Regions from separate parts of the Homo sapiens genome. Here all the other regions are linked to region 1. Evidence: fine-mapped expression QTL. A gene starts in region 1. Each other region holds a variant in brackets. All regions are shown on one strand. Distances are from middle to middle. Region 1 holds the start of RMDN1 (regulator of microtubule dynamics 1). Region 2 overlaps WWP1-AS1 (WWP1 antisense RNA 1). Region 3 overlaps PSKH2 (protein serine kinase H2). Region 4 overlaps RMDN1 (regulator of microtubule dynamics 1). Region 5 overlaps WWP1 (WW domain containing E3 ubiquitin protein ligase 1).

The links. PIP is the estimated chance that this variant, and not a neighbour inherited with it, causes the effect.
Region 2: its variant is fine-mapped to the expression of RMDN1 in whole blood (INTERVAL, PIP above 0.99).
Region 3: its variant is fine-mapped to the expression of RMDN1 in whole blood (INTERVAL, PIP above 0.99).
Region 4: its variant is fine-mapped to the expression of RMDN1 in thyroid (GTEx, PIP above 0.99).
Region 5: its variant is fine-mapped to the expression of RMDN1 in neutrophils (CEDAR, PIP 0.94).

Annotation. Positions count from the first base shown.
Region 1 is chr8:86,506,704-86,511,812 of GRCh38, reverse strand. It overlaps RMDN1 (regulator of microtubule dynamics 1), which reads left to right and starts at 3,127. Exons shown (of 10, transcript NM_016033.3): 1 at 3,127-3,321; 2 at 4,701-4,818. The coding sequence starts at 3,193. It also overlaps the pseudogene SLC2A3P4. RefSeq lists an enhancer at 3,213-3,382.
Region 2 is chr8:86,337,066-86,342,174 of GRCh38, reverse strand. WWP1-AS1 (WWP1 antisense RNA 1) reads left to right here. Exons shown (of 6, transcript XR_007060994.1): 4 at 3,788-3,909. Among named protein-coding and RNA genes, the nearest start is that of WWP1, 2.9 kb to the left of the region's middle. The variant T/A (reference allele first, on the strand shown) is at 2,760.
Region 3 is chr8:86,055,750-86,060,858 of GRCh38, reverse strand. The region is part of intron 2 of PSKH2 (protein serine kinase H2); the gene reads left to right. Among named protein-coding and RNA genes, the nearest start is that of PSKH2, 11 kb to the left of the region's middle. The variant T/G (reference allele first, on the strand shown) is at 2,154.
Region 4 is chr8:86,475,832-86,480,940 of GRCh38, reverse strand. RMDN1 (regulator of microtubule dynamics 1) reads left to right here. Exons shown (of 10, transcript NM_016033.3): 6 at 609-664; 7 at 1,931-2,018; 8 at 3,617-3,647. Among named protein-coding and RNA genes, the nearest start is that of RMDN1, 30 kb to the left of the region's middle. The variant T/G (reference allele first, on the strand shown) is at 2,991.
Region 5 is chr8:86,427,962-86,433,070 of GRCh38, reverse strand. WWP1 (WW domain containing E3 ubiquitin protein ligase 1) reads right to left here. Exons shown (of 25, transcript NM_007013.4): 12 at 2,320-2,374; 13 at 1,581-1,665; 14 at 1,328-1,456. Among named protein-coding and RNA genes, the nearest start is that of RMDN1, 78 kb to the left of the region's middle. The variant T/C (reference allele first, on the strand shown) is at 2,242.

The sequences.
Region 1 (5,109 bases):
GACAGGTTCTTGCTGTCACCCAGCCAGGCTGGGATGCAGTGGTGCGAATACGATTCACCACAGCTTCAACCTCTCAGGCTTTAGCCTGAGGCGATCCTCCCACCTCAGCCAGTAGCTGGGACCTACAGGCACGAGCCACCGTGTCTGGCTAATTTTTGTACTTTTTGTAGAGATGCGGTTTCACCATGTTGCCCAGGCTGGTGTCAAACTCCTGAGCTCAAGAAATCCACTGGCCTTGGCCTCTCAAAGTGCTGGGATTACAGGCATGAGGCACCACGCCCAGCCTTAGTCTCAGAGCTTTGAATTCCATCTATATTTTCTCTCTCTTTTTTTTTTCTTTGAGACGGAGTCTAGCTCTGTCACCAGGCTGGAGTGCAGTGGTGCGATCTCGGCTCACTGCAAGCTCCACTTCCTGGGTTCACGCCATTCTCCTGACTCAGCCTCCTGAGTAGCTGGGACTACAGGCACCCGCCACCACACCCGGCTAATTTTTTGTATTTTTAGTAGAGACGGGGTTTCACTGTGTTAGCCAGGATGGTCTTGATCTCCTGACCTCGTGATCTGCCCGCTTTGGCCTCCCAAAGTGCTGGGATTACAGGCGTGAGCCACCGTGCCCGAACTTCTTTAATTTTCTTTTCTTTTTTTTTTAAAGACGGTGTCTCACTCTGTTGCCTGGACTGGAGTGCAGTGGTGTGATCACCGCTCCCTGCAACCTTGGACACTTGGGCTCAAATGATCCTCCCAGCTCATCCTCCTGAGTAGCTGGGACTACAGCATGCACCACTACATGCAGCAAATTAAAAAACAAAAACAAAAACAAAAAACAAACAACAACAAGAAAAACATGTTTTTGTAGAGACAGAGTCTCACTGTGTTGCCCAGGCTGGTCTCAAACATCCTGGGCTCAAGCTGTTCTCCCGATTTGGCCTCCCAAAATATTGGGATTACAGGTGTGAGCCACTACGCCCAGCCTATATTCTTAAGGTTATCAAACTTCCACACCTTTCCTCTGAAACTCCACACTCCAACTCTCTATGCTTTACTTGGCTGTTATATTAGTTATCAGTTGCTGTGTAACAGATTACATCAAATTTAGTGGCTTAAAACAGGAACAATCATTTATTATCTGTCATAGCTTCTGTGGTTTAGGAATTTAGAAGTGGCTTAGCTGGGTGCTTCTGGCTCATCATCTCTCTTGATGTTGCAGTCAGATATTGGCCAAGGCTGCAATCATCTGATGGCCTGACGGGCTGAAGGAGTTCTTCAGCCCAAAAGTTCAATTGTGCCAAGGCTGAGAAACCCTGCTTTAAACCGATGGGACTATACATTTAAAAAATACTAATGTCGTGAAAGACCAAGGCTGACGATTTAAAGATTTAAAGAAAGTAGAAACATAACAAATGCAAGACATTATCAAGATTTGATCTTGAATTTAGAAAAAAAAATCATTAGTATAAAGGACAGTATTGGGAATTAAACAAAATTTGTATATTAAATAATAGTATTCTGTCAATTTCAGTTTCCTGAATTTGATAATTAAACTGGGACTAAGTAAGGGAATGTCTTGTTTCTAAGACTGAAGAGTCATGATATCTGTAATCTACTCTCAAAAGGCCTTACAACAGAAAATACTAGGAATATAATATGTGTATTATAGGTAAGATATGTAAAGAAAGATAAAGCAAATGTGAGAAAAAGGTAACAATGGCTGAATCTAGCTGAAGAATATATGGGAGTTCCTGCAACTTTTCTTAGGATCTAATTTTTTTTTCAAAGCTAAAAACTTAATTACAAATTCACTCTAGCAGAGATATCAGAAACTTAATTTCACTGTTATCATGGTATCCAGTGGCATAAACATTTAGCAATGTTGAGGGGGTAGCTGCCAGTAGAAATGCATAAAATAAAAGTGATTCTGTCTTTGGGAAAAAACAGCTAGGTTTCAGAAGTTGGGAAGGAGATCTATATATTTTTAAAGATAGACTTTAAAGACATAATCCTAAAGAAATACAGCTGATTTAATGGGACTAGTGGAGGTAGCAATCATATAGTAGAAGGAGCACTGGACTCAGAGTAGAAAGACATGGATTCCTGTCTTCTAACATATCCTTGGTTAGGTTAATACATCTCTTTGAGTTACAGTTTTTTCATTTGTAAACCTGGGATACCACTTACTTCACAAGGTAGTTCGGAAGATCAATACGACTATGTATTAATTCCCTATACAGTATTAAAAGTACCATAGAAATGCAACCTAATTTTTTAAAACCATGACTCGCCTCCCTTATTACCCATAAGATTTTTCGTTAAACCCATATAGTAGGTACTCCCTTTGCAGTCTGTGTTTCCACCCACCCTGATCAGGCCTCAAGTAGGATCCAAAATTTCTTCATTTTCCCACAAAAGAATTCCACTCGAGCAAGAAATTTTATTTTACTCGAGTAAAATAAAATACTTTGCTCGAGTAAGTAAAACATCTTATTGAAGAATTTTAGGGGAGACCAGGGTTTGTTTTTGTTTCTGTTTTTTACTACACATGCCCTAGCATTCAAGGGCATCAGTATCCTTTCCAGAGGCCTCCTCCCGCTAGTTCCTCTTCCCAAAACGCTTTGCATTTTTTGTTTCTTTGCTCTGGACTCTCTCTTGAATCTACCCCCTTGAGTCGCTCAGTCGAAGAGACTGAGACTTTCCCTTCTTCATGTTGGGCAACATAATTCTTCCAATTATTTACTTCCAAAAAAGACCCACTAGTACCAAGATTCAATCTACTTTTGAAGGCAGCAGATAATTAAAATGACAATTTTTTTTCTGGCATACTTGTATTCTCGGGTCTATTTCCGAGCTTTCAGTTCTATTCTGGCGACGAATCCTTGTGCCCAAACCATGAAAGACCCCCTAGAGAGATGGAGCAGAAACAAGTCAGAGCGCCTGAAGAGAGCGCTCTCACGGCCTCAGTCCTGGACGCAGGCGCGGAAAGTCCATTAAGTCCCACCCAATCGGGGTATTTCCCACCCCCTAAGCCCGTGCACCGGAAACCATGGGGGCGGAAGAGGTGCTGGGCAGGAGGCGGAAGAGGTGCTGTGCAGGAGGCGGGCGGGCGCGGTTCTTTCCGGAAGGATTGAATCTCCTTTAGCCCCGCCCGCCTCCGTAGCTGCCTGAAGTAGTGCAGGGTCAGCCCGCAAGTTGCAGGTCATGGCGCTGGCTGCTCGACTGTGGCGCCTTCTGCCTTTCCGACGTGGAGCCGCCCCGGGGTCTCGTCTCCCTGCGGGGACTTCGGGCAGCCGCGGGCATTGCGGCCCCTGTCGATTCCGCGGCTTCGAGGTACCCCCGTGGTCCTGGCTCCCGCTCCTCACTTCCTACTCAGTGGGTTCCGGCTCCCCCTTAACTTAAGTGGTGGCGGCCCCGCGCTGCCTAAGGAATGTGGTGAACCGAGGAAAGAACTCGGGGCCACTGTGCCTGGAACGCCCGGACAGGTCCCTTCCATTTTGCAAACCTCCACTATCCTTAACTGGGGCTGTCAGAGAAGGAGTGGGGTTTGCCCCCACGCGCCCCAGAAGCTGCCTGCTACCCGCCCTTCTTGTGCGAAATGTAAAACAGGACGGGAAAGAACCTTGACCGCTGTGAAATTATTCTCCCTGTAGGCGATGACAGATACAACAGCGCTTGAGGCTGCCCCTTTCAGACTTTGAAAAGTGTGGTGTGTGATTTAAAAAGTTCTACGACTCAGAAGCAGAGATTTCATACTGTTTAGGTTTTTGTTTAAAAATGTTTATTTCTCAGTTGCCCGTTGTATCTGCATAACGTCAATGAAGGTTGTCGGCATGTTGTAGTCTCAGTTCTGGTATTTCTATTAGACTGCTCGTGGGCCTCTGTTTATTCTTGTCAGGGAATTGGAATGGCATTAATGCATATGATATATTTCACATGAACTAGGGGTTTCATTATTTTAAACTCAAATTTTTAACTGCTCAGTTAAAATCTTTCAGAATTATTATGGGACTGATGGTGGGGAGGGGTGGTTAAAATTTGGCATATTCCCCTTCCTTGGAAGTTTATAACCAAATGGGGAGGTTATAGATAATATAGGCAGAGAGATGGGAGGAGTTCTAAGTATGAAACTAGTTAGCCGTAAGTTTTCAAATTGGAACAATGATGAGTTTGAAGTCCCATTTTAGGCCTGGCCCCTTGGCTCAGCCTGTAATCCCAGCACTTTGGGAAGCCGAGGCGGAAGGATTGCTTGAGTCCAGGGGTTTGAAACCAGCCTGGGCAACACAGTGAGACCCTGTCTCTACAAAAAAATTTAAAAGTTAGCCATGTACATTTTTATATGTAGTAATTACTATATATGATAATCTTGTCTGTAAGATTCATTTTTATTATGTGTTGGTGTCTCATATTTTACTTCATACAATTTGCAATATCCATGCATTTGCAAATAAGTTGTAGCAAATAAGTTGTAGCTCTTCCTTTCCAGCAGGAGTGTGATTTTTAGATGAGCGGCGACTCCAGGGGATATCTTTTTCTCAATAAGATACGCTTTGAGATAGTTTTACTAAAGATTTTGATGAAGTAATTTTTAAGCTTCCAGTATTATGATCGATTGCTTTGGGGGTGGGAGAAAATTCATGTAATTTTTGCTTGGGGTAGCAGTACCTTCAAATTTTCAAAGTTTGTAACTCTTAACATAATTGTTTCCATAGGTAATGGGAAACCCAGGAACTTTCAAAAGAGGCCTTTTACTCTCAGCTTTGTCGTATTTGGGTTTTGAAACTTACCAGGTTATCTCTCAGGCTGCTGTGGTTCATGCCACAGCCAAAGGTAAGCATAAATTAGATATATGGAACATTTAGAGTTTTTTTGTGTGCGTACATTCAGAATTTTTATTTTAAAACAAAGAATCAGGGTAATGTTAATAATAGAAAATCCATATGGAAATATTCACAATCTGCTCAGTGAGAAATGGGAAAACAACTTCCCTGCCTAACTGCCAACCTACTGTTTGAGGAGCCAGAAGTTGACGTGAAGTTGGAAGAAGGTCACCTTTTCCAGCTAAACCCCACTCCATAGCTATGTGCATTTTTATTTGAAGTCTCCGTGACCAGAGGAAAC
Region 2 (5,109 bases), 170 kb after region 1:
TTTATTAATCAAAACGTTCATCTGTGGAAGCCCCACCACCTAGTCCTCACTCACATCAGCCCGGTGATAAAGCAGATACTTATTGACCGAGTATACGTGTCCGCACAATTAACGCACACAACAATCTGACAAAGTAGTGTCTACTGTCTGCATTTTACAGAAAAGTCAACTAGTTTAGAAAAGTACTGTTGGTTATGTGTATTGCTTTTAGAAGAAAGGCCAATGTGCAAATAGAAGTCAGTGGGACCACATTGCTTACCAGGTGACCCGGTTTCTACTTCAGAGAAGCAGAAGCCTTCAGGCATGGATTTCTACAGCTTTTGCCCAACCACCTGACCAACCCCCATAGATTATATCTACGTCCACACCCAGACTTACTAGTTTTCCTTCTATCTCGGAGGCTAGATGTCCCTGCTCCTCTCCACTGCCTGCTCCCCACTGTGGGCGGTCCTTGGCACATCTTTAACTTCACCCTCTCCACTGCCTACAACTCCTCAGCATAATCACGTTTTAAGATTAGGTCCTAAATTTTCCCTTGATTTTAAAACCTCTGGTTCTCTCTCCCCTTCCATTTTAACTGAGCTTTTTGAAAGAACTGTGTACCAAAAACAACCCCAACACTTCATGAGTGTGTACAGAATTCAACAAGTATCTCTTGACTGAACAATGCACATTCCCGCCTACCTCCATGCATTAGTTCTTGTCCTCTGGCTTCATAGTTGAAATTGGTGCACATTATATCCACAAAGATCATTCGAAAATATACATCTGTGTCATTCCACTGCTTAAAATCATTCTTTGGCTTTTCGGAGCTCTCCTGACAAAGATTAACGTGATATTCAAGGTTCCTTTGATGCTCACATGCTCTATCTCTCCTGTTATGAAAAACTCTTCACAGTGCCCCATATGTGCCCACTCATCTCTGCTTTAAACATGTACTAAGATTTTCTTCATCTTTTTGCTTTTGCTGTCTGGTCCCTTTAAATAGATGCAATAATGTGCTTACAAACACGTCCTCAGAAATTCCGTAGGTATTCCCCAGCAGGGATCTGGACTCCTTCTCCAGAATGCATGCAGGCCTCCTCTTCCTGCTCTGTGTCTCACTTTCAGCTCCCCTCATTGCTCAATTTCCTCCCCGTTCAGAAGCTCTTAGTACTCACCTAGTCCTCAAGCTGACACCCAATATTGAACCAGCCTTTTGTTATTGACTGTTTGGTTTCAAATGAACAATATTATAAATAGTATTCCATAACCATTGTTCATGTCCTTATTAACTGTCTTAGATAAATTATTAAAAGTAATAAAAAAGTATGAACAAGTTTAGCCCTTTTGAAACATATTGGCAACTACCTTCCAGAAAGAGCATAGGCTCAGGTATCACATCGCCCAGCATCAAAACACAGCTCTGCCACCCAGTGCCACATTCTGACTTTCACAGGCCCTAGGTGCTTATACCTGTGTGGGCCTCATCTTCCATAAAATAATACTACAAAATATATTTTATTACTGCATTGGTATGAAGAAAAAGATATTAACATTATACATTAAAATATTTTCTTTGACCTAAATATTCAATTTTTTGCCTTCTGATTTTAAAAGAAATTAAAACATTTTTATGGGCCCCCGAAAGTGTTATAAGCCTGAGGCACTGTGTCTACTGTGCCTAATGGATAACCTGACCCTCCTGCTGCCTATGAGCTGAGAGATTTGGCCAATTGCTTAATCTAATTGTGTCTCAACTAGAAAATTAATATAGTGCTTCCACATGTTGTATTAAAAAATATATATAAATTGCTATAAATAACACGCATAGAGCTACTTAACACATGAGCATGGCACATAATCAAGAAATGATTGTCATAATGGTTATCAATTTTCCCACAACACTACATGACAGTATGTGATTGTCCTTCTTCCATGTGCCCAAATCATCATGGTATGTTTTCATATGTGTATGTATGGTAGCTTATTGTTTGTCCTTTGTCCATTTTCTTACTGAGGTATTTCACAAAAGGGTGCTTCACACAATGTAGATATTAGTCCTTTGTAAAACTATTGATCTTTTCCATTTTTGTATTCTTCCATTGTTTTTTACTTCATACATCTTTCCCATCCTGAGATCATATAATTCATCTGTCTTTACTTTTTTCTACTTGTTTGACTATTTTACTTTTTTCATTAAATAATTTAATTTTCTTGGATTTATTTTGCAATGATAATCTAACTTTTATTCCTTTAAAAATAGCTCATGGTATTCCCCCAAACCATTTGTTTAAAAAATTGTTCTCTAACTGTAGTGGTTTTAAAATAGGTCTACAGGCCGGGCACTGTGGCTCACACCTGTAATCCCAACACTTTGAGAGCCCAAAGCAGGTGGATCACTTAAGGCCAGGTGTTTGATACCGGCCTGACCAACATGACAAACCCTGTGATATGGTTTGGCTGTGTCCCCACGCAAATCTCATCTTTTTTTTTTTTTTTTTGAGATGGAGTATTGCTCTGTCATCCAGGCTGGAGTGCAGTGGTGTGATCTTGGCTCACTGCAACCTCCACTCCTGGGTTCAAGTGATTCTCTTGCCTCAGCCTCCCGAGTAGTTGGGATTACAGGCACATGCTACCACACCTAGCTAATTTTTTTTTTAATTTTTAGTAGAGACGGGGTTTCACCATGTTGGCCAGGCTGATCTTGAACTCCTGATCTCAAGTGACCCTCCTGCCTCGACCTCCCAAAGTGCTGTGATTACAGGCATGAGCCACCA[T/A]CCCTAACCCTAATCTCGTCTTGAATTGTAGTTCCCATAATATCCACGTGTTGTGGGAGGGACCCAGTGTCAGGTAATTTAATCATGGGGGCGGTTACTCTCATGCTGTTCTGGTGATAGTGAGTGAGTTCTCACAAGATCTGATGGTTTTATAAGGGGCTTTTCCCCCTTTTGCTCAGCACTTCTCCTTGCTGCCACCATGTGAAGAAGGTTGTGCTTGCCTCCCCTTCTGCCATGATTGTAAGTTTCCTGAGGCCTCCCCAGCCATGCTGAACTATGAGTCAATTAAACCTCTTTCCTTTATAAATTACCCAGTCTCAAGTATGTCTCTATTAGCAGCATGAGAACAGACTAATACACCCTGTCTGTATTATATTTCCAAGAATAATTTTTTTAAATTTCTTAATAAAATATGTCTACAAATATTTTGATACTTCTGCCCTCAGAAAGTGAAGCCTAGCCAGGCACAGTGGTTCATGCCTGTAATCCCAGGACTTTGGGAGGCCAATGTGAGAAGATTGCTTGAGCCCAGGGGTTCGAGACCAGCATGGACAACGTAGTGAGACCTCATCTCTACTAAAAATCAAAAACTTATCTGGGCATGGTGGTGTGCACCTGTAATCCCAGCTACTCTGGAGGCTGAGGTGGGAGGGTCACTTGAGCCCAGGAAGTCAAGGCTGCAGTGAGTCATGAGTGCATCATGATTGCACTCCAGCCTGGGTAACAGAGTGAGAGCAAGACTCTGTCTCAAAAATAATAAAAACAAAAAACCAGGAGGCAGAGGTTGCAGTGAGCCAAGATGGCACCACTTCACTCCATCCTAGGCAACAGAGCAAGACTCCCTCTCAAAAAAAAATAAATAAATAAAATTAAAAAAAAATAAACCAGTGAGGCCTAATTCTCTTCCAAAAGGAATGTAGGCTGTAATTAGTGACTTGTTGTTAACAGATATAGCAAAAGTGACAGTGTGTCACTTCCAAGACCAGGCCATAAAAAGGCATCATGGAGCCCCTCCCACTCTCTTTCAGATCATTCTCAGTTGCCATATGGCAAAGACACAGGAAGCTGCCCTGTGTAGAGACCCACATGGCAAGGAACTGAGACATCCTGCCAACAACCACCAGAGTCTGAGGCCTGCTGCCATCACCACGTGAGTGAGACATCTTAGAAGTGGATCCTTCAGCCTAAGTCAAGCCTTCAGATGATTGCGTCTTGACTGCAGCCTCATCAAAGACCTTGAACCAGAACCACCCAACTCAGTTACTCTCAAATGCTTAACCCATAGAAACTATAGCGGTAAAATAAGTGCTTATTGTTTTAAGTCACTAAATTTGGGAGATAATTTATATCTATCCAGAAATAGATAACAAATACACTAATCCTGTTGTTCTCAACTTGGGACCATTTCATATCCCAGGGGATTTTGGCAATGGCTTACGACATTTTTCATGGGGGTAGGTTGGATGTTCCATTGGCATCTAGTGGGTAGATGTGACAGAGGGTGCTAAACATCCTACAGTGCACAAGACAGCCCCATCACTCCACTCAAAAAACAAGGAATGATCAGGTCCAAATGGCATTAATGCTGAAGCTGAGAAACTGCCCCAACCTATTTTCCCTTGCACTTTAAAAGTTTCCTATTTCACCTGTACTTGTGAAAGAGGTGGGGTTTGCTTCACTTCCATTACTCATTTGAATGCTGCTTCACTTGTTTCTTTTTTTTTTTTCTCTTTTTCTACTTTTATTTTAGGTTCAGGGAATACCTGTGCAGGTTTGTTGCATGTGTAAATTGCGTGTCACTGAGGCTTGGTGTACAAATGATCCTATCACCCAAGTGCTTGTTACTTAGCCCTCTTTAGTATTCTCCTCATTCTCATGCTCCCCTTCTGGTCAAAGCCCAAAACTCAGATAGCATAGAGAGCAGTGCCCCTTAGGACAATCTGCACTTCCTTAAGAATTCCTTTGAAGGAGTGAAATACCAACATGAGGCAGTCCTCTCCTCTTCTGATGTTCCCCTCTCCTGTTTACCTTCCTATAAGTACCGAACAAAGTAAGTAGGTATATCAGTCTTAAGGGCTTCCCATGCCATAAGATATAACTTAAAGCAGTTATATCTTATGAAGGAAATTATTTCTTGTGATGGTCTTTTTTAAAAACTATTTTTAGTAAAGACAGGGTTTCACCAAGTTGACCAGGCTGCTCTTGAACTCCTGACCTCAGGTGATCTGCCCACCTTGGCCTCCCAAAGTGCTGGGATTACAGGAGTGAGCCACCGCACCTGGCCTTTACTGATACTCTTTGTTTTTATTTTTAAAATATTTTTATAGACACAGGGTCTCACTATTTTGCC
Region 3 (5,109 bases), 450 kb after region 1:
GCACCCTCTGTTTCTTGAGGAAATGTCTGCCTATAGCACCAGAGTACTGACAACATGCACCACAGAGGAGTGTGACTGCTTGTAATAAAGTACTAGATTTATATTATCTTGATTTCCCTCCCCATGTCTGTCAGGCACTCATGTCTAGCATATTAACATTTCTTTTGATATCATCAAGTGTCTTAGTCAGTGCAGGCTGCCATAATAAAATAACACAGGTTTGGTGGCTTAACTACTTCCCTAGAGGCCTCATCTCCAAACATAGCCACACTGGGGGTTAGGGCTCAACAGAGAATTTTGAGAGAATAAAATATTCAGTCCATAATACCAAGGAATCATATATCGGTAGACTCAGAAAAGTATATCATCATGTTTTCATTTGTCATCATATTACCATATATTTAGCGTCTATTGCCAAGTCTAGTAATTGCTAATTGTACCAATTTTATTTAAAACCAGGTGACCACTGTAGAGTAAAGGGAATTTTCCTTCCCCTTCTTCCGAATATAATTTGAATCTATAAGGCAAACTGACAATAGGCAGATCAACAGGAGAAAATGTATATAAATTTATTTCTGTGCACAGGAGCCACACAAAAGATGAGACTTAAAGAAGAGCCAAATGACTGAAGTTTTCATACTGTACAGAAAGGAACAGAGACTTGGAGTTTGGAGACAGGTTCTGGGAGGGGGAGGGGAGAAAAGGCATGGTGAGCAAAGGCTGTCTTGTTATGCAGATGAAATCTCTCAGGTAACAGCTCTCAGAAAGAATAGATGGAATCCAGTGGTGACAGTTTCCCTGTTGGAACTTTAATACTGTCAGATATTTTCTATGAGTTAATCTTTCCTAGTTTAGGATAAGGCTGATAATGGGTCTCAGAGAAATCCTGTTTGCATCCACTGTTTACTTCACTAATGTAGATTTCCTCTACAGATGCAAATCTTTTCCACAAAAGGACAGCTTTCAGAGCCACTGTTATGTCTGCAGCCCCTCTAAAGAGCCATCTCAAAATATGCCAAAGAAGTATATTTTGGTGGATATATTTTGGTTTCCCATATCGTCAAGTCTGGAAGCATAGATGTGGTAGACAGAATAATGGCCCACCAAAGATGTCCATGCCCTAATACCCAGAATCTGTGATTGCTACCTTATGTGATAAAAGAGAATTTGCAGATGTGATTAAGTTAAAACTCTTGAGATTGGGAGATTATTCTGGATAATCTTGGAGGCCCAATACGATCACAAGTTTCTTCATAGTAGGGAGACAAGAGGGTCAAAGCTAGAGAGAAGAGATATGACTATGGAAACAGGTTGAAATGATGTGCTTTTGAAGATGGAGAGAGGGGTCATGAGGCAAGGAATAAGGACAGTCTCTAGGAGCTGGAAAAAGCAAGGAATGCATTTTCCCCTAGAGCCTCTGGAAGGAACACAGCTCTGGTGACACTTTGATGTTAGCCTGTAAGACCCATTTTAGACTTCTGATTTGCAGAACTGTAAAATAATAATTCGCCTTTTTTCAGAAAGGTTTTCTTTTGCCTATAACTGAAATTCCAGATATGACACATTGTATAAATCACTTATTTTCCCCAGAATTCAGGTATAAACATCAAATTAAATAGGTTGGGCATTGTGGTGCACACCTGTAATCCCAAAACTTTGGGAGGCCAAGGCAGGAGGATTGCTTGAGCTCAGAAGTTCTAGACCTGCCTGAGCAACATTGCAAAACATTATGTCTACAAAAAATACAAAAAATTAGCCACACATAGTGATGTGTGCCTGTAGTCCCCGCTATTCTGGAGGCTGAGGTGGGCAGATTGCTTGAGCCTGGAAGGTCTAGGTTGCAGTGAGCTAAGATTGCAGCACTGCACTCCAGCCTGGGTGAAAGAGTGAGACCCTGTCTCAAAAAAATAAATAAAATAAAATAAAATAAATTGGATGAAAACTTCCAGAGATTTATGTGGTATACCTCTTATGGTGAAGGGGAGTGAGGTGTTTAATATAATACTAAATATTATACTAATATCTAACAGAGCCATACTCTAGCTCCACTCGTATATAAGTAAAAGTTAGCCATAATATTAATGTTTAACTTTTTTGGATTTTGTTGTGAAATATATTCTTTTTCATGAAATCTTCAATGATCATTCCACTTC[T/G]GTCATTCTTTCCCTTTTCCAAATACTGTTTAGAATTACGATTAATTTCATTTGTTCTAATTTAATCTGGTTGCTATAGGTTGCTGCTTTAAGACATTATAAGCTCCTTAAAGGCAGGGATACTACCATATTTTCTCTCTGCATTCAGTAAGACATCTAAAAGGAATAAGCATGGAGAATGCATTCAATTACAAATAAATTGCTTTTGAAAAATATTAAAAGATTCTGATTTATAACTGCATGAGTAAGTGTATCTCAGATATAACTGTTTTGAACACAGCATAGAATTTCTGACTTATAGTTAGGTAGATGATAATTAACATCCTTAGTTGCTGAGTTTATTAGGTCCATTCTGGAATAGGTAGGTGGTCTGAAAGGCTACATCTACTGTATTCACTGGGTTTTGCAGGGTAGGCATAGGAGTTCCTTTTTCTAGTTTTTTTCTGCAATGCTGGAGGAGCAGCCAGGGTAGACAGGTACAGCAGATGGTGGAGAAGGGATGGAAGAGAGCAAAGATTTCCTCCCCAGTGTGCAAGGAAGGCCTTCACTTATCTACTTGATTGCCAGTGCCATCACAATGGCTTTTGGATGGTGGCAGAGCTCGTGCTTGAGACGCTAAGTAAAGGACTCATTATGGAGACCATTTGAAGGCATCTTTATGTGGTCTTCACCCCTTCCTTCTGGTCAGGCCTTCCTCGTGCCAGAAATTTTGTTCAGCTCAGTGTCTCTGCTCTTAGGAGCCTCGTGGTCTTGGCTGAGAGACAAGTATGATTATATATCTCTTCAAATACAAGTGCTTTAATGTAAGTGGGAACAAAGCCTCAAAGTTCACAGGGGCAATGGAAGAAAATCTATCATTGCTTAGGAAAACTGGGTCAGGGTCCATGAAAAGGGCCACATTTGTGCTATCTTGCAGGAAGGGAAGGAGTTTCTGGAAGGAAGAAGATTCCAAATAGACAGAATATATGCAAAAGCACATAAAGGAATACATTGACTAGTAAAATGTAAAAACTTTAGGCCAGGAATGGTGGCTCATGCCTGTAATCCCAGCACTTTGGGAGGCTGAGGCGAGGTGGGCGGATCATAAGGCCAAGAGATCGAGACCATCCTGGCCAACATGGTGAAACCCCATCTCTACTAAAAATACAAAAATTAGCTGGGTGTGGTGGCGCGTGCCTGTAGTCCCAGTTACTCAGGAAGCTAAGGCAGGAGAATCGCTTGAACCCGGGAGGTGGAGGTTGCAGTGAGCTGAGATCGGGCCACTGCACTCCAGCCACTGCACTCCAGCCTGGTGACAGATTAAGACTCTGTCTCAAAAAAACAAAAACAAAAACAAAAACAAATGAAAACAAACAAACAAAAAAAAACTTTAGAGCTCAGATGCATGCATTTGTGTGTATGTGTGTGTGTGTGTGTGTGTACATGCATGCATATTAAGTATTTTGAAAAACTGTATAATATAATAATTAAGAACACGATCTGGGCCAGGCATGGTGGCTTATATTTATAATCCCAGTGCTTTGGGAGGCTGAAGTGGGAGGATCACCCGAGCCCAAGAGTTCAAGGCCAGCCTGGGCAACATAACAAGACCCCATCTCTACCAAAAACATTTTTTAAAAATTAGGTGGGCATGGTGACATGTGCCTATAGTCCTAGCCACTTGAGAGGCTGAGGCAAGAGGATCATAGCTGCAGCGAGCTATGATCACACCACTGCACTCCAGTCTTCTGGGTAACAGAGTGAGACCTTCTCTCTAAGCAACAACAACAACAACAACAAACAAACCAAAAAAAAAAAAAAACTCCAACTACCTGGAACAAGACTGGCTGGATTCCACTACCAGCTCTGCAATTTACTAACTGTGTAACTTTGGACATTTAAAAGTTTTTTCTGTATCTCAGTTTCTGCATTTGTGAAATGGTAATCATGGTGGTACCTACCTAAAAGGGTTGTTGTGAAGATCAAATAAGCTAATAGATGTAGGTGCTGAGACTATTTTCATATGCTAGTATATACAGAGTTAGTGCTGTATATATGTTCATTATTTTTGTTATTGTTACTATTAACTTGGGAGACTAGGACTGAAAGTTTGAATTTTGCCTAAGTAAGTTATTAGTTTTATGGCTTTTTTTCTGCAGTACAAACTTCATTTATCAAGTGCACCTTTTAAATCTTTTACATGGAATAGTGAAGAAAGGTTAGTGTTAGAATTTTAATATTAATGATAAATTACAAGAATTCTCATCAATGAGTTGTGAATCATATATTCTTGTCTAATTATATTCCACTGTATCACAGTCATCTTTTTTTGGTGAGCAATGCATTGATTTTAAAAAAAGGAGAATTATAACCATATTAGCTAGCTGACGAGGACAGACACTGATATTAAAAACATTTTTTTCTTTTTTGAGAGACAAGGTCTCACTCTGTCACCCAGGAGGCTAGAGTGCAGTGGCGTGATCATAGCTCAGTGCAGCCCCAAACTCCCTGGGCTTTGGCAATCTTCTCACCTCTGCTTTCTGAGTAGCTGGAACTACAGGTATGTGCCACGCACAGCTCATTTAAAAAAAAAAATCTTTTGTAGAGATAGGGTCTTGTTATGTTGCCCAGGCTGGTCTTGAACTCTTGGTCTCAAGTGATCCTTCTACCTTGGCCTCCTGAGTTGCAGGGATTACAGATGTGAACCACAGTGCCTGGCCTAAACACACACACACACACACACACAGACACACACATATATATGTATATATATTTTTAAATCCCACATGGATATTGATAGAAAATGGTCCCTATCTACTTAGGTTCACCTGTGATTCTCATACTGTTAGGAAATACTTTTGCTGATATTCTCTTTTAGAAGTAACATGTCTGTTTGATTATGCTCATTTTCACCAGCCATGATCCCAATTTTGTTATGTCTCCTTTTCTCCACTAACTTCTCTTATTCTCTTGTTCT
Region 4 (5,109 bases), 31 kb after region 1:
CATATTTTACATTGCACATAATTATTCTATTAATATTCTATAAACTGTTTATTTTTCCTTTGGTAAGTACAGATGGGGAAGTTGAACAAAATCTGCATACAAGAAGACTTTCTAAAAATAGAAAAGACTTTCTAAAATCTGCATAGAAGAGACTTTCTAAAATTACATTTTTTCTAAAAAACTAAAATGCACTTTTCTTCTTTAGGAAAGAATGACTTTTATTCAGTATTCATCTACAGTTTGCCAAGAAAGTACTTCCTTATCCATTTTTCCTTTAATTTGGAAGAAACATTAAGAGCTATAGATTAATTTGCAAGATTAATTTGCAAAATTAATCCATTTATGTATTTCATGTTTTTTCTCATCTTGATAGACACTTACTATAAATGTCTGAACCATACAAAATAGTAACATTAGTATAAGTCATTAATAGTGTTTTGAAATGAATTTAATCAAAGAATCAGGAGGAAGAAAGTTGATATTATAATGGGAGAACTGAAACACACAGTTGCATTTTTTAAAAAATCATGGCTTCTTCAGCAAACACAGTAAAGCACTTATTGGTGTTTAGAAAACAAATATGATTTATTTTTCTCATTTCTTGTTAGAAAGCAATTGAACTGAACCCTAAAGATGCTACTTCAATTCACCTTATGGGTATTTGGTAAGAAAATTTCTTTAAATATTTCAGTAGTATTTAGTGTGATATTTTGTAGTATGTATAAATATCTTCTTTTGCATATATAAAAGATATTAAATATTTTAAAATATTATCTGACAGAGCTTAGAGTGCTAAATCCATTAACTAGCCCTTGTATATATATTGTTAGAACATACTAAATTTGATTATGACCATGTTAAACATTGTTATTCAGGTCATTTAGAAACATGTACAGACTGAAAAGACTATTCTTATTTACCATGCTAAATGAAATTAGATTAATGTAACTATAGTAAAACAGTAGAATGCCCCAAGAGGGTCTTTGTATCTTCAAAGTGTGTCAGATACAGTCTTGATTAATCTGAGGAACCATATAATCTGATTTTCAGTATCTTTCTATTTTTATGTGATCTTATGTCCACTGTAGATTATTATTTTGCTGGTATGAGGCTTTATCAAAGTGTTACGTACTTGATGGTTTAAGAGTCTGTTTTGAGATAGATGGGACACTCTTTTGAGTATAGCCTGCAGAGCTGAATATTTACTGCCATCTAAGAAGGGTACCAGTGTAAACTGTCCTGTATCAAACTCTTTTAAAAGAGAAATATATTCTTCAGGATAAAGGACATATTAAGCTAACACTCATTCACTGAGGATTAATGATAATTGAGGGGCAGTCACTAAGTCAGATGCTAGTAAGCAAACCCAAATGAAATAGCAATTTCTGCCTTAAGGACTTCAGACCCTAGTCAAAGATGCAACACTTTCTTTCCTACTTATTTCTGAAAGTTGTAAAGATCTTTGGAGGTTAATCATTTGCTTTGCTGCTTTAAAAATAGATTTAAGTTGTTGGTTGCTGTTATTTATACATTTGATGTTTAGCTTTGTCATTTTTCTTGTGTAAGGTTTAACTTCTCTGAGTTTTTCTTATAAGAAAAATAGGGGAAATTATCCTATCTCATATATAATTGTTACAAGGAATAAATGAGAGAATCAACCCACTACCTGGCACAATGCACTCAGTGGTAGATGTATATTATATTACTGTTATTAGTATGACTGCTTACTATTTATATTTAATCACAAAATACACCCCCCAGCTAAAGGATCACTATGTCAATCTCTGGATTACCTAGTAGATATCATGTAAAGCACAAGTTGTTTAAACATACAGTAGAAGATTCCTTTTATAGTATTAAGATGCTTAGTTAACTTTAAGAGAAAAGAAGGTACAATTTGAATGTATAAAATTGTTTTATTTCCCTGTAGGTGCTATACATTTGCCGAAATGCCTTGGTATCAAAGAAGAATTGCTAAAATGCTGTTTGCAACTCCTCCTAGTTCCACCTATGAGAAGGTAGTATGATGTCCTTTGTTAAGTTAGTACGGATTTCTTAACCACAGCGCCATTCTACCATGTGTTCACACATGTGGAGCTCTGATTCAGTGAGGGACTTGAGCAATTTCTAATGATCCAATTCAACTGTGTTATCACAAGGCTTAACACTTATTATCCTTGACTGGTGAGTGGTTTTCTTTTTCCCCGTTAGGTGAGTGGCTGGTAATTCTGGAATACTGTCATCTAAAATGGCTCGTGGCTAAAATCTACCTTCATTTTCTGTTTGAAATCTAAACTATATTGAAGTCATAAAATAGAACAAGAAATACAGCATCTGTTACCCAGCATGTTTTAGCTGTATTACACACAATAACAGAAAAGTAAAGCAGATGCTTAAGTTGATAAAAGAAGAACACTCATTATAACTTCTATTTTAAAAAGCATATGAAAGGTTCATATTCTCTCATATTTTCAAGGCCTTTTGCTTTTCTTGTTAAAAATAAGATTTGAGAGGAATTTCTGGTTAAACTTTGGGTTTACTCATCACAAGCTTTTCAGAGTAAGAAAACAGGCAATCGAAAAAGCTGTACTTGTATTATTTACATTATAACAAGGAGCTTTTTTTTCTTTCTGGGAAGCTATAGTGTAGAAATTGATGTAAAAAATACTTAGTTGTATTCTTTACACACAGTTGAGAAATATTATTAAAATAATGCACCAATATTTTATAATGGTATTATTAAAATAATGCCCATTTGCTGGACACGGTGGCTCATGCCTGTAATGCCAGCATTTTGGAAGGCCAAGGTTGGTGGATCAGTTGAGCCTGGGAGTTTGAGACCAGCCTGGGCAACGTGGCAAAACCTCTGCAAAAAAAATACAAAAATTAGCCAGGTGTGGTGGCCTGTGCCTGTAGTCCCAGTCACTCAGCTAAGCTGAGGGAGAAGGATCACTTGAGCCTGGGAGGTCAAGGCTGCAATAAACAGTGAT[T/G]GCGCTACAGCATTCCAGCCTGGGCAACAGAGTGAGACCTGGTTCTTTTTTTTTTTTTTTAAGACAGGTCATTTTAAGGACAAAAAATATAGTCAGCTCTACTTTATCAAATTAGTTATGTTTCTAGAAATCAAATGTCATTAGAGAATGCATTACAAAAACAGTAGCTTAAGTAGGACAAAAAGAGTTTCAGACTTAACATTGTATGTAGGAATTTCAATAATAATGGACTCTTAAAAATTCACTAGTACAACGAATAAATTCAGCTTTTGATTATATTTTGTTTTTACTAAAAATCACTAGTTATGATTTAAGAGAACTGTCAAAATAGCTGAGTTACACGTGATAATGTTCTTTCCTTTCTGCACATGATGTTAGTTTGGTACAAGTTCTAAACAGCAACCAAGTTATTACCAGAAGTAGTCCATATATTGTAATCTTGATGATTGAAGTGTTACGTTCACTTTGGGTGTTAACTCTCACTGTTGAAGAAGTGACCATTATTTTAAGATGATTTACTTCCTGACTTAAATATAATATAGCAGTAGATCTTTGAGACAATGCTTTTTTAATATTGTCTTCTTTAATCTTTTTTATTATGTTTGGGCTCTTTGTGTTTTTGACAGGCCTTAGGCTACTTTCACAGGGCAGAACAAGGTAAGGTATTTTTGATTACACATATTAATATAGTTAAAATTGTATGAATGCTGAATATATACTATAATAGCAATGTCTAAAGCAGTTGTTTATTCTGTTATACTTATTTTTGTGCTAGATACTGTAAAACAATTTTTAAAGTCTTTATTCAGTAAAGATCACCTGAATGAGAAATAGGCTGCTATTGAACTTAGAGCTGCAGTTCTGGAATGTCTATCATTTGATGTAATTCTGCTTCCTTTGTGAGAGCAGTCTCTGACATGGTAATTGTCTTATTCAAGACTGCACATATTGGCCAGATGTGGTGGCTAACACTTGTAATCCCAGCACTTTGGAAGGCCAAGGCAGAAGGATCACTTGAACCCAGGAGTTTGAGACCAGCCTGGGCAACATAGCGAGACCTCATCTCTACCAAAAAATAAAAATAAAAATTAGCCAGGTGTGGTAGCACACACCTGTAGTCCCAGCTACTCAGGAGGCTGAGGCAGGAAGGTCACTTGAGCCCAGGAGTTCCAGGCTACAATGAGCTGTGATTGCACCACTGCACTACAGCCTGGGCCACAGAGTGAGACTTGTCTGAAAAAAACAAAAAAAGATTATGCATCTCATTAGAGGCATTTAAATGGGAATTCTGCTATTCAGCCAGGCTAGTTCTATTGCAGATATTGTGAAAAAGAGTTTCGGGTTATGTTTGTTTTGAAAAAATGACTAGTCCTATGAAACTGCCACCAGCCCATCCTAAATTTATCCTTTTTAATATTCATACACCAAGTGGGGGAGATAAGAGACATAAGCATATGATACCAAATAGACCATAAAAACCATTGAAATATATTCTATAAAACTTAATCAGGAGAAGACATACCATGTTTATTAAATTTGAGATCCCACACATAATGGACTTGTTCATTTCATGATAACAGTTATCTTCTACAGAATTTTATCTGAATGTTTTATCTCTGTAATTCATCAATTCTGATTTATTCATTATTACCTTCACTGATACCCTCTCTTGATCATACTGTTTCACATATCATGAATATGAATCTAGGGATGACTTTTTTTAACAGATTTAAAAGTTAATTACAAAGTAAAAATATAGGACCTTAGAGACTTAAGGGTTGGGGGTGTTGAGAAAAACATGGTCCTACCCTCATGGAGCTAAAATAATCCCTGGTAACTTCAGTCATTCTTGAGTGACCTTACCTTATTTCTTTCTGGCCTATATTCAGTTCAGAGGCTCCTCTGATGCCCTTAGTATCTTTTATTTTTCCAGTGATACTTATCACTCAATACTATGAACATTTACATGTGTAAGACTGTACATTCTGAGAAGATGTGGACTTTGTCTTTTCTGGCTCACAATTGCACACTCATTACTTGGCACAATGCTTGGCAAATCTGTTGAATGACTGAGTAAATAGATGAATGATCGGATGATTGAATATACGAATATATTTAA
Region 5 (5,109 bases), 79 kb after region 1:
ACCAACGCCTGGATTAACAATGTGAAGATCATTGGTGCCCTTGCAAATTCAGTGTCAGGGGAACTTCCTTGGAGTTGGTTTAAAGGAGAAACTATGAACAGCAATACAGAGACAACCATGCAAGTAGCTTTCCTGTAAAGGGGAGCAATAAAAATGAACTGTGGGCTGGGTGTGATGGCTCACGCCTGTAATCCCAGCACTTTGGGAGGCCAAAGCAGGTGGATCGCCTGAGGTCAGGAGTCCGAGACCAGCCTGGCCAACATGGCGAAACCCCATCTCTACTGAAAATACAAAAATTAGCTGGGTGTGGTGGCGGGTGCCTGTAATCCCAGCTACTCAGGGGGCTGAGGCAGGAGAATCGCTTGAACCCAGGAGGTGGAGGTTGCAGTGAGCTGACATCGCATCATTGCACTCCAGCCTGGGCAACAGGAGCGAAAGTCCGTCTCAAAAAAAAAACAAAAAAATGAACTGCGATTGAACACATTGGTAAAGGGAAGAGTTGTAATTTCTTTTTTTTTTTGCTTTTTTTTTATATCTAGGAGAAATAACAGCTGATAAGAATAATTTTGTAGAGAAATAAAACCTGATAATGCAACACAAAGGTGATAACTGTTGGAGCAATTAAGTAGAAAAGTGGGGGTAGGAATCGAATGTACCAGCAGAGGGACGAGACTTTGATAATAACAATGACAGTTCATCTATAGGAACAGGAGGGAGGAGAGATGGTAGGAGACGGACAGATATGGTGGTACAACTTTGCAAAAGACCTTTTAGGATTGCTTCTATTTTCTTAGTTATGCAAAGACATGACACCTTAGAGTAAGAATGAAGGAGAGATCTGTCAACCGCTTAATTAAGGTATCTTTAAATCTGGAAAAATCATTTCACTGACCATCTCATTGCAGCAGTGTGATGTGGCAGTTAAGAGCACAGAGTCTAGACAGAGACTGACTGTCATCGTTAGAAACCAGCTCCATTACTTGCCTTATAACTTTGCACAGTTAGTTATGCTCCCTATACCTCTCCTCACTTGGTAAAGGGAAAAATAATAGTATCTACCTCAAGGGGTTATTGGAAGATAAAATGAGTTAATACCTATGAAGTACTTAGAACAATCCTCGGCACACAGTAATCACTACATAAATAGTTTACATGCTGCAAATCCATTGTCAAATGAGAGCAAAGACAGCTATACTAAGGTTTCACTTGTGTAGGTTTTCTTGAACCAAAAAGTAAAATGTTTTGCTAAACTTGAGGATAAATTAGAGACTAAATCTCATGTGCTCACTAAGCAATATTTAAAGGAGAACTTCAGGTTTTCACTCACACAGATGACTTCCCATTGCGAGGATCTTTGAATGTTGTTGTTCTTGTGTTATGATCAACAAAGTACCTTACACCTTCACGAGTATATCTAATTTCCCAGCCTTCTGGCAGGGGTTCTTCATTCTGTAAGCTAAAAGATAAAGTTAAAATCACAAGATGAACCTTTTCTAGGTACTAAAAATATCTCATTCAAGGTTGGTTGGTTCTACCTACTGATATATGCAAGACGACTTAAGGCTGCTGTATATACATACCCTTGAGTTCTTGGATCTTCCCACTGGGTTGTTTTTGTGTTATGATTCACAAAGTAAACCCTGTCTGTTGAATCCACTCTTTTTTCTGAAATATAAAGTGAGTATAATATTTAATAACTATTTAGGATCTATATATAAAATAAGGAACACATATAATTATATATAATATATATTATATATATAAAAACATATCAGGGATATATGTATCCCTTATATATTATAGAATATATTATATAGAATATAATATATATTATAGAGAATATAACATATATTATATTATAGAGAATATAATATATATTATATTATAGATAATTATGTAGAATATAATATATATTCTATAATATATAATTCTTTAATATATAATCTATTCTATATATTCTGTATATTATATATATAATACATATATATATCCCTTATAATATACATATATATATCCCTTATAATATATACATATATAATATACATATATATCCCTTATAATATATAATATATTTAATATGGATTATATATTCTATATAGTATACAGAATATATAACATTCTACAGAATATATAATATATAGAATATATAATCCATATTAAATATATTATATATTATAAGGGATATATATATGTTAAGGGACATATATAAGGGAGATATATATATATAAAATAAGGAACATA[T/C]ATATATATATATATATATATATATATATATGGAGAGATATATATCTCCCTTATAGATCATTAGCAAAAACAGCTTACCCCAGCCTGGTGGCAAAGGTCCATAAGGGTCATTTTCTGCAGCTAACATTGAAGCCTGATTGGAGAAAAGATTAGGGAGAGAAATAAAATAACAGTGTTTTAATATGAAAGTAGAAATAAGCCAAGCATGTGGCAGAATCACATTTTATAATAATTTTCTAAAAATATGATAAGGGGTTGGGCGCAGTGGCTCATGCCTGTAATCTCAGCACCTTGGGAGGGCAAGGTGGGAGGATTACTTAAGCCCAGGAGTTCAAGACCAGCCTGGAAGATCCTGTCTCTATAAAAAAAAATTTTTTTTTAATTAGCCAGATGTGTTGGCACATGCCTAAAGTCCCAGCTACTTGGAAGGCTGAAGTGGGAGGATCACTTGAGCCCAGGAGGTGGAGGCTACAGTGAACTGTGATCACACTACTACTGCACTCCAGCCTGCACAACAGAGCGAGAAGCTGTCTCAAAAATATATCTATATTATTATATAGACAGATAGATAGGTCCACATTATAAGGAAATATAGCAATTTCAAGACACAAAGTTCTTTGTTTTTTGAGACAGGATCTTCCTGCTCTATTACCCAGACTGGGGTGCAGTGGCGTGATCTCAGCTCACAGCAGCCTCTGCTTCCCGGGCTCAAGCAATCCTCCCACCTCAGCAACAACCGAGTAGCTAGGACTACAGATATGCGCCACCACACCCGGCTAATATTTGTATTTTTTGTAGAGACAAGGTTTTGCCATGTTTCTGAGGCTGGTCTCGAACTCCTAGGCTCAAGCGATCCACCCGCCTCAGCCTCCCACAGTGCTGGGATTACAGGTGTAAGCCACCGCTCCCAGCCAAGACACTAAGTTCATAAAATGTCACGAAGAGGAGACTATCAACTATCAAATTAATTATTAGTTTTTCGAAAATGATTTAAAAATAATACACTGGCATCAATACTTTACTCTCCCAGTCCTTCCATACTAATCTATAGAGGGAAGATGAAATGGGAGAAGAACATATAGGAAATTATGATGTTTAAATGAGGCAATATTATTTGTTTAAAAATAGAACAGTTATCACAATTTTCTTTAAAACAAATGCCCACTAATAAAACTAACACTCAACTCCAGTATCATTTATAGAAATAAACTTTTAATTAGTATCTTTTATATTTTCATACATACATAAAAACACATTTTTATGTATGCCTCCATTCTTATAACCTAGAAATATATTCTGAAGAAAATATAAGTATTCTATCAAGAATTCTATAATAATGACAAATATAAAAATCATTACCTGAAAAATAATTTCTTAAAGTATATGCATCTTGATGAATATAATCTTGTAACAGACCCAGTTAATTATACTCAATATTTATCTTCCACCTGTTCTTGAGAACCAAAACCCTGTTTTGTTGGAGGTAGAAACGTGGCCATAAAGATCATTCCATTCCCCCTTCCCTGCAGCTGAGTTGGTAGAGTGACCAATTCTGGCCAATGAGGTATAGGCAGAAGGCCATGGTGAGGGCATCCTTCGCTAAGTAAAAAAGGCAAGGGCTTGCAACAACAGAGCCATCTGCCCTTTCAATTCCTCTTTCTCTTTCTTCTTGCCTAGACTATGGATGTGAGGCCCATAGTGCAGAGTATATAAACGAAGTAACAGGCCTGAAGTGCGATATGGATGGCAGAGCAAAAGGGCAGAAAGAACCCGGGTCCTTGATGACACTACTGAGTCAATGCAGCACTTACACTTTTACCCCAGACTTGATGTTGTACTGAGATAATTAAACCTCAATGTGTTTAAGGAGATTCTATTACTTGCAAGATAACATTCTTCTGATACACATCTGTTACCTCATTCTGCCCTGTTCACCAAAGGTTTTCATGTGTACAGATAAGTCCAACCAAAAACAAAGCTATATGTATTACTTTTTATGGATGTATATAGCTATATATATTACTATATATACCACACGGTATAATTACTATATACAGCTAAATTATGGAACCTTACCACAGATTTCTGTACAAGTCATGGAAGAACCAGCAACTGAAGGCAGCAGGAAACGCTATGGAAACTAGGCTGCCCACTCCCTCCCTGCTAGCTACATATAACCAGGAGAGTAGGTCAACCTGCAAATGAGAACTTACTATTTAACCTCTGAAAAAAATGTGGTTGAAAGAGCCAGACTGCAGCAGGATTTTGGAGAAAGTTACTTACATTTTCTTTCTATGTCTCTTTCCTACTTCCTTTCTATCTGCTAGCTTCTATATTTTAGGTTTCTTCAAGTTGCCTCAAAACACTATCTGTAGTTGTCCAGTACTTAAAATTTATCTTTTCTACCTCCTATGATCACACCATTTATCAGAGGAGTTTTGTTTTGTTTTTTCCACTCCTCTCACGGATGTTTGCTTATGGCAATAAGTAAATCACCAATTGGTCAAATTTTCAGACAGCATTAGATTTTTTGGATAAAACTTTCGAGTTCTAGAAATATCTTTGATGGAGCAAAACAGATGAGTGTTGCTTCTTAGAATCTGGGAAGAGAATCAGAATAGGTAGCATACTGCAAGACTGGCTCTAAGTAAAATAATAAAGTAACTGGTTTTGTTGAAAGCAAACAAAATTTATAAAAGTGGAAGATTGAAAATTAGTAAAAATATTATTTTGTTAAGAAATGCATTTATGAAACTACCCCGTAGGATATAAAACTTAATGTATAAGTTATGTTAGTAAACTAGAATATTTTAAAATATTATAAAGTACTTATATATATCAGAAACACTATTTATTAAAGATTAACTA